2 separate regions of the Homo sapiens genome follow, and region 2 is linked to region 1. Evidence: fine-mapped expression QTL. A gene starts in region 1. The other region holds a variant in brackets. All regions are shown on one strand. Distances are from middle to middle. Region 1 holds the start of BFSP2 (beaded filament structural protein 2). Region 2 overlaps BFSP2 (beaded filament structural protein 2).

Region 1 (4,394 bases):
TCTTAGATTTGACAGGCGTTAAGGCCCTGGACTGTTCTAAGATGGCTCTCCCTTGCAGCCCAGATGGATGCAAGCAGAACAGCAGCACCAGGGGGAGAGCCTGAGAGGATGGTGCTGTTCATCATGCACTCTGTGCTGTCAGTGGGCACTGACAGCAGTGCAGGAGAAGCATCCTGGGATGAAGTGGGAGGCAGGAGGGGCAAATGGGGAGTCCCTGTGTGCAACTGCTTAGCTTCCCCCAGCTATACACAAATAAAATTTTGTGACCTCCTCTTGGGAGGCTGCATACTGGACTCCAGGGGGCCAAGGGTCTGAGTTGGCAGTCCCTGGTGGGTTAGAGACTGATTTTGCTCAGAGGGATCCCAAGGCCAGCATCTGGAGAGAAAGAGGAGGAGGAGAGGTGAAGCCAGCTATCCACAGAGAGACCAGCTGAGAGGTGTAATGCTGGCTGGAGTCCCAGCATTAGAACTACAGGCTGCAGGCCAGACATGATGGATGTGCTCCAGACTCCGCAGAAATCACCCTGGAGAGTGGGAAAAGCAGGGCTGACCAAGCAAGGGAGAAAGATGAAACCTCTGCATCCTTCCCTGTCCAATAAGATAGCCATTAGCTACCTGTGGCTGTTTACATTTAAATTAATGAAAATTAGATAAAATAAAAATGCAATTCCTCAGTCTCATTAGCCACATTTCAAGTGCTTGATAGCCATATATGGCTAGTGGCTGCCAGATTGGACAGTGCAGATATAAGATATTAATATTTCCATCACGCAGAAAGCTCTACTTGAATGTAAATTACCTCATTAATATATTTTGTATTGATTACATGTTGAAATAACATTCTGGACATATAGAGTTAAATAAGCTATAATATTAACTTCACCTGCTTCTTTTTACGTGTTTTACTGTGGGTAATAGAAACTTGTCAATTACCAATGTAGTTCATATTTCTATTGAACAGCGTGGTTGTAGGTGGATACAGGAACACACCTCCATTTATTCATTGTTCTTAACACCTCATCCATCCAATGGTATTTGATTGGATAATAGCTGTAAAAATCCCTTCTCAACAGTAAAGGTGACTGAGGCAGCCCCAGGGTAATGGGGCAAATGCAACTTTGGAGGCACAAAAATTCAGGTTCAAATCTCATCTCCATCCCTCTACTAGCTTTGAAGTCTTGGGCAAATTACATGCCTCAGTTTCTCATCTGAAAAATGCAATCAGTGAATGATCCACTGCATAGCATTTCTTTGAAGTTTAAAGAAGACAGTGGGTAGTGCACGTATGGGGGCTAGCGTGGGCTCCTAGTAAACCTCGGTAAAAGGTAGCATTGTTGTTATCATTACCATTTTAAGTGTGAAAGTGTAGGGGATTATGGTCAGTTTCTCTGGCCTCAGCCTACTCACAACCCTACCCGCTGCCTTCAGCAGCCCCTCCCAGCCCTCTGCAAAGCCCTTGGCACAGCCTGGACACTTACCTGCTGGCAGCTGCTGGCCCAGGAAGCCCGTAGGGCACCCCAGTTTCCCGAGCGTGTGGCTTTGCTCTCCAGGTGCATCCGCAGTTGTGTTTCCAGCTCCTGACTGACTTGCTCAAGGGCGTGCACTTTGGCCATATATTCCACCAGGCAGCCCCCTAGGTCCTCAACAGCACCATGGTCCCTCTCCAAACCTGGAGCCGGCACGGTGGCCAGGCCTGAGCTCCGCAGGCCCTGAAGGAAGACACTGCTGATGCCGAGGGCCCGGCGGGTCACACGGGCACCCAAGCCACCTATGCACCCACTGGGTGCTGTTCCTACATAGACCCCGGGTGCTCGGACAAGGCCACTCATGGCATTGGTCCTGGAGGCTGGGGGGCTCTCCAGGGAGGATGATGACCGTGGCCCCCTGAAGGACGCCCTGCGCCTCTGGAGGGGCATGCTGGAGCTGGCACTGGTGGGCAAGTCCACTACCACTCGCCTCTCACTCATCACCCCTTCTGCCTCTGTGGTGCCCAGTGGGTTTACAGAGTCCAGTGGCTTTTGGTTTACAGCCCCAGCATCCCTGTGGCCTGGTCACGGGCCTCTCTGGAATCTCCCCTATCCCTGGGGCTGCTTTGTCTGCTGTCTTCCATGAGTTTCCATCATTCACTGAGCTGAAAGAGAAATGGGCACTGCCCAGGGCTGTGTGCAGAGAGGCACTCATGCATTCTTTGATGCAGGGTCATGTGCCCAACCTCCCAGATTATTCTGCTGGTGGTGGGGGAGGCTGGATCAGTGCAGGCTGTGGAGGTAGACCATTTGGGTTTGTGCATTTTACTACCTAAGTGGGCAAGGCAGGCATCAAGCAACCCCATTTTACAGATGAGTAAACTGAGGCTCAAGGACCTCAGATGACAAGTGTACTGATCACTTGCCCCAGACCTCAGATTACAAGCTAGGACTCAATCTAGCTATTTCAGGGCTTTCTACATCCCTATGTGTGCTGGCACATGTGAATGTGAACACATGTCCACACAGGCAATAGAGGATGAAAAATGGCAGGAGGCAGCTCCAGGGACCCAAGAGAAAAGACTTGCCTATGGTTTCCTCTCTCAGTCCTGGCAGCAGCTTCAGGTCCTTCCCTCACCTCTCTCCTTTCCTCCTCATCTCTGTCCTCTAATGCTCTGCTGTTCATCAGCTGCTTGCTGTTGGCCAGGATGCTTCCTCCCTCTGGACCTCACTGTCTGAACATTGGCTTGGGCCTTTAACTCTCTGATGCACCAGATAAGGACCTTGGGCAAATTCAGATCCCACACATGTTCCGGCCATTCCCTACACCTCTGCTTCTCCATCTGTTGGAAAACTGAGAAATAAAAACAACAACGAGGGTGTTTTCTGGTAAGCCTCTCCAAGGGTGCCCCAAGTTAGGATATGATGACACCCCTGGGTTTTAATTATTGACCTTGGCATCCACTAAGCCACCAAGGGTCACACCTCAATCACTTCTCTAGGATCAGAAAGGTTCCCCCAGTTACAGGATGACAACATGGACCTAAAAACCTCTGTACATAAGTTTTACCCTGGAGAAACCAGGTCACCAAACCCCAGAGCTGGATACTTTTCCAGATGCTGTAATGTAGGAATGTACCTCAGGTGAGAGAAGGAGAAGGGAGTCAATCTCTAGTGAGTAGCAGATCCAGCCTGGTGTGTGCATGAATCCTATGGTTTATTTCGTGGAATTCTCAACTCAACCTCAGGAGGAAGGAGGTCCAGGGTTGACAGGTACTGCCATATGGGCTGTGTACCTCACAGCTCTAAAATGACATGTCCTACAGTTGGCCACTGTCCTCTTATGTGAGGAGGACCCCGAGAGCTGCAATGACTTGCCCAAGGTTCTATGTCCAGAAAGTAGCAGAGCTGGGGGCAGACAACCTCTTCCAAACTCTGGGCCACTGACTTACTTAGGAGCCTCCCTGTTGCCCACCACCCAGAGAGCAGAGTACCTACCTGAGGTCACGCAGGTAGAGGTAAAAAACCTGGTCGCCTACTAGAGGACCCTGTGTGCACTTCCTTCCTACTGACCAGGACACTCCAACCCTTCCTTTCTTTATTGTCTTCCACTTTGTCTCTCTGAGATGGCCTGGGAGGTATTTTATAAATATCAGTGTTGGCTATTTGATGAACAGATGAAAGAACCAATTGGATTAAGTAAAGGCCAGTAGTGTCCTTGTTTATTCAGATGTAGCATTAATGCTGTGAACACCACCCCTGATGCACCCAGAAGGGGCATGCGAGCCTGTGTTACAGTAACAGCCTCCTATACGGATGACACTGACTTGGTTCTGAGGATCTGCATTATTGTGAATTCCAAGATGTATTGTCCAAGGCTGAATGAAAAGTTCAGGCTACTGATTAAGTTGTGCACAAATGTGTCATGTTTAGGCATTGTTATTCTCTACAGAATGGTAACACTCAATGGCCAGGTTAACTTCAGACTTCTCCGGACCAAAGATATTTACTATATAAATCCACTCAGCCCTGGAGACAGGGAGAAAGAGGGGGGGATGTACTTTGACACCACTGTCTCCAAAGACCTGATGAAAGATGAGTCTGTTTTGGAGAAACTGCAAACATGTTCAAAAAGATTTATTTTATCAAATGATAAACTGCTAATCCTATTAGCTCATCACATACATAAAACTCAACTTACTGTTAAATCAGATTAAAAAATACAGATGGATATAAAGTGGTGTTGGTACTGCTTAAGGAAGACTTAGAGCTTATCTTGAAAAGAATGCAAAATGTATTAGCAACAGAATCCTCTGGCTAATAAAATAAGTTTATTTATATATACATGGTAGCTGAAATCTGTGGATAAGGAAAAATAAGTCATACATCCACATATGTATATATAACATATGTATCTTTGATTACATAT
Region 2 (4,394 bases), 54 kb before region 1:
TGCGATATTTCAGTTAGATGGCCCGGCTTTAGATGATCTTGAATGTTTCTTTTGGCCTTAAGACTATCAACAACCAGAAACCTCACAATTCATTTCAATCTATTCACTTGTCTTCATTCTTAATAGTTTGCACAATCTGTCATCCTGACATGTGACATGAAGGCATGATGGTTACAGCTCAGATAAAGTTCCTGACCGCAGATGCCTCAAACTGACCTGAGGCAAGTGCAGACCTGCTGTTAGAGAAGATAGCATGGGAGCAATCCATTTGTTCCTGACCCTGGGGACTCTTAAGACAGACTGAGTTCTCTCACATCCGGGCAACCACCAACTTGTGCTGGTGATTGATTAAGCCTTTGGGTATTGTATACATCAACCAGTTGCAGCAGGCAAGGGATGGAGAAATGAGGCCTCTGGGAATGAAAGTGTGGAGTCAGCTTTGGGCAAATGGAAATTGAATGGAAGGAGCATCTCAGGAAGAAGGCTAAGAAGGCAAAACAGAGCTTGCATTGCAGGAGGCAGACTTCAGACCAGGCTTAGGGTGAGGGAACAAAGACGTCTCAGTGCCCCGGCTGAGAAATTGGACAAGAAAGACGGGACCCGTGCTCCCCTACAGGAGGTGGGCTGAGGGCAGAGCTGTTTGCCTGGCAGAGGAGGTGAGATGGTGGGGGTTTGGGGAGGGGCAGAGTTTTAGTTCTCTGCTCAACACTGAGGGGCCTGGTAGGCAGAATTCTAAGATGGCCTCCATGATCTCTGCTCTCTGGTGTTATGTCCAATGATTAAATTATGTTAGATGACAAGGATGAAGAGATTTTGACATGTAATTATGGTTCCAAATCAGCTAAATCTGAGCTGATCAAAAGAGGAGTATCTGAGTGGGCCTGACTTAATCAGATTAAAGGCTTAAAATGGTAATGCTTTTCTGTTGGCCCTGAAGGAGCAAACAGCCATGTTGTAAATGGCCTCTGAGGAGGACTGGCCTCTAGGAGTTGAGGACCTCAAGCCTACATCTGCAAGGAATTGAACGATGCCAAGAACCCGAACAAACTCTGAAGATGAGAATGCGGCCCTGGTGGGTACCTTGATTGCAGCTTTGTGAGACCCTGTGATGATGCAGTGTAAACAAACCTATTGCACTGCCAGTCATATAAAAGTCTAGCACATACAATTATGTGCAGTGCATAACACTTGCTAACAATAGTAAATGTTACTGGTTTATGTATTTACTGTATCTATACTTTTTATCATTAGCATACTCCTACTTATTAAAAAAGAAAAATAGTTAACGGTAAAACAGCCTCAGGCAGGTCCTTCAGGAGGAATTCCAGAAGAAGGCATTGTTGTTACAGGAGCTGAAAGCTCCACACATGTCACTGCCCCTGAAGACCTTTCAGTGGGACAAGATGTGGAGGTGGAAGACAGTGATATTGACGATCCTGACCCTGTGTAGGCCTAGGCTAATGTGTATGTATGTGTCTTAGTTTTTAACAAAAAAAGTTTAAAAGGTTAAAAAAACCCCCTCTTAAAAATAGAAAACAAGCTTATAGAATAAGGATAAAAGAAAGAATATTTTTGTATAGCTGTATGACGTGTTTGCATTTTAAGCCAAGTGTTATTATAATAGAGTCAAAAATTTGGAGTTGGGGACTCTGTGCCCCTTCTCACATACGTTGCCTTAAGCATCTCCTCCATTTGGCTGCTCCTGAATTGTATCCTTTATAATAAGCTGGCAAAAATATGTAAAGTGTTTCCTTGAGTTCTGGGCACTGTTCTAGCAAACTATCTACTTATCCCTCTGCAGAGGAGGTTGTGGGAACCCCTAATTTATAGCCAGTTCATCCGAAGTATGGGAGGGCCAGACTTGTCATCTGAAGTGAGGGCTGTCTTATGGGAC[T/C]GAGCCCTTAACCTGTGGGATCTGATACTACTTCAGGCAGGTAGTGTCAGGATTGAATTGAATTATAGGACACTCAGTTGGTGTTTGGAGATCTGCTTGGTGTGGAACAAACCTACATATTTGGTGTCAGAAGCATTTTGTAAGAGCATAGGGGACAAAAAGGATTTTTTAAAAAAGAGATGGGGTCTCACCATGTTGCCCAGGCTGGAGTAGAGTGGCTATCCATAGGCATGATCATAGTGTACTTCTCCTTTGAACTCTTGGCCTCAAGCAATCCTCCTGCCTCAGCCTCCTGAATAGCTAGGACTACAGGCACATGCCACAGTGCCCAACTTAAAAAAAAAGTTGTTTTGTTTTACTTGACTAACTAGGAGGTCTAGAGTGTGGTGTGGCATGTTGTCTGAGGTTCCTGAAGCATCCCTGAGTACCCTGCATTAGGTAACCACAACAAATAGACAAGGAAGAACTAGACTTTAAGACCCTCCAGAAATTCTCTGGACCAATCTGATCCTGTCATCACTGAATCATACAACTTCAGAAGCTTCAAAAACTGGACCATGAGGTTCCTGACATTCGTAACACCATAGCTGGAAAGAATATGAATACTGCACTGACCTTAGCCAGAACCTCTTAATAAATTTTTTTATGTCTCTATTTTATTAAGCTTTTAATGACTGAAAAAATAAACAGAATTGGCAGATAAGTTCTAGCAGATGCTGATGGTACCACCTTTATCCCTTAGGCTTTCGCAGTTTAGTGCTCTCCTGTTCCCCCTGCCAGATTCTGCATCTTTTTGCCTGAGAGTTTCTCTGAAGCCTTTGGAAGGCCACTCTGATAGCAGATGGCAGAAAACTGTTGGGAGATGGTATTAACATCTCAGCTCCCTTGCCTTTCCCCTCTCCTGTAGTCTATACCGTTTCTCACAATTCTTCTTGGTTTACACGTCAGTCTCCCACAGTGGTAACTGGTTTGATTAGGCATTCTTTGTTGGTTCCCTTCTTTGCTTCTCCTCTACTGGTATTTTGTTGGTTTTTAACTCCCCAACTTCCAGGTAAACTACCTTAACTCCAATATTTGTTTCAGGATCTGCTTCTGAAGGAACCTAAACTAAGATATAAATTAATCATGTTAATTAATTTTCAGCCTCTGTGGTCCGAAAGGTAATTAAATGCATGCTTGCATTTTCTTTACAAAAGCTTTTGAAAGCTGTGTGTGCTAAGCCATTTCACATTTATGCTATGCCGCCAAGAAACCGACAAGAGATGCTCAGGATGGGCAAATGTCAGCCCCTGAGGGCACAACTGCAACTGACAAAACTATTTATTGGAGGAATTCTGGCTGTCAGTTCAGATCTCTGTTGATGATCAGAGGAATTCACTCATTCTGCAAATATTTTCTGAGCTCTGCCTTTCTGCAAGAGGCCCAGGCAGCATTGGCCAAGCTAAAACAAATACTGTCTGTTTTCTCTGAGATGTAGCTTTCAGATTACTCTATTAAAAAAACACTAATGAATCTGTTCAGAATTAATGTTTGAGTTACTGTTGGGCTAGTGATGATTCTCCAAGGGGTGAGGAGGAGATAATAATGACCTTTTTTTTTTCTTTTTCATACTATGAAGGATTTATTTCTGATAATTATAATAGTCTGTCCTTTCCCAAAGAAACAGTTACCACAGTGTGGTGCACACCGCAGGAGGGCTGGGACAGAAGCAAAGTTTGCAAACTGCTGGGCCTCTGAGGTTTAGCTTTAGAAGCAGAGCCAGGGGAGAAACGATGCAGCCCAATGCAGAGAAAAGGTCTCTGGACCAAGAACAGGAGAGTTGAACTATGGAGCTCTCAACCAGCTGTGTGATCGTGGGAAGTCACCTGCACTCTCTGGGTCTCAGTTTCCTCACACCTAAAATTAGGGAATGGGATCAGATGGTCTCTAGGACCATTAATTATCTGTTATCTGTCATGAGTCTGTTAAAAAAGGCAATGGACCAAACTCAAATCTATGGCTTCACTTTACCTCTGTGTTGCTCCACTTCTCATCAGGTTGGGTGGGGCGAGGGGAAGTCATTTTTTGAATAACTAGGCTCTATTTGCCATAAAAAAGTGTTTGTAGTGACCTGGCTCAATGATTGGTGGTTAGAAAGAAAGGAAGCTATTGAAACGGGGTAGGGGTTGGAGAAATGGGTGAGTGAAAGGATGTTTTCTAGGCTGGAGAACATTTTGGGAATCCAGAATTGATGAAGACCCTGCTGGGAAGGTTCTTGTTGATACTTGGGGGATAGAGGGAGTATGGTGGGAGAAAGGACAGAAAAGCCTCTCCTATTTTTCTTTTCATAGCTTTTTATAATTCTTATGGTTCTCAAATCTGGCTGCATATTAGAATCATCCAGAGAGCTTTAAAAATCACAAAGTCCCTCTCCTCTGTCTGATTTGGTTGGTCTGGGATGGCGATTTTTGAAAATGCTCTGAAATAATTCTGCTGCGTAGCCAGGATCAAGAACCACTAA

The links. PIP is the estimated chance that this variant, and not a neighbour inherited with it, causes the effect. A credible set is the group of variants that fine-mapping cannot tell apart.
Region 2: its variant is the best candidate, but not a certain one, in a credible set for the expression of BFSP2 in spleen (GTEx, PIP 0.54).

The regions. Positions count from the first base shown.
Region 1 is chr3:133,397,656-133,402,049 of GRCh38, reverse strand. BFSP2 (beaded filament structural protein 2) reads right to left here and starts at 1,994. Exons shown (of 7, transcript NM_003571.4): 1 at 1,478-1,994. The coding sequence starts at 1,966. TMEM108 (transmembrane protein 108) reads right to left here. Exons shown (of 6, transcript NM_023943.4): 6 at 4,275-4,394.
Region 2 is chr3:133,452,007-133,456,400 of GRCh38, reverse strand. All of the region lies in intron 4 of BFSP2 (beaded filament structural protein 2), which reads right to left. It overlaps BFSP2-AS1 (BFSP2 antisense RNA 1), which reads left to right. Exons shown (of 4, transcript NR_189064.1): 2 at 938-1,072. Among named protein-coding and RNA genes, the nearest start is that of BFSP2-AS1, 37 kb to the left of the region's middle. The variant T/C (reference allele first, on the strand shown) is at 1,895.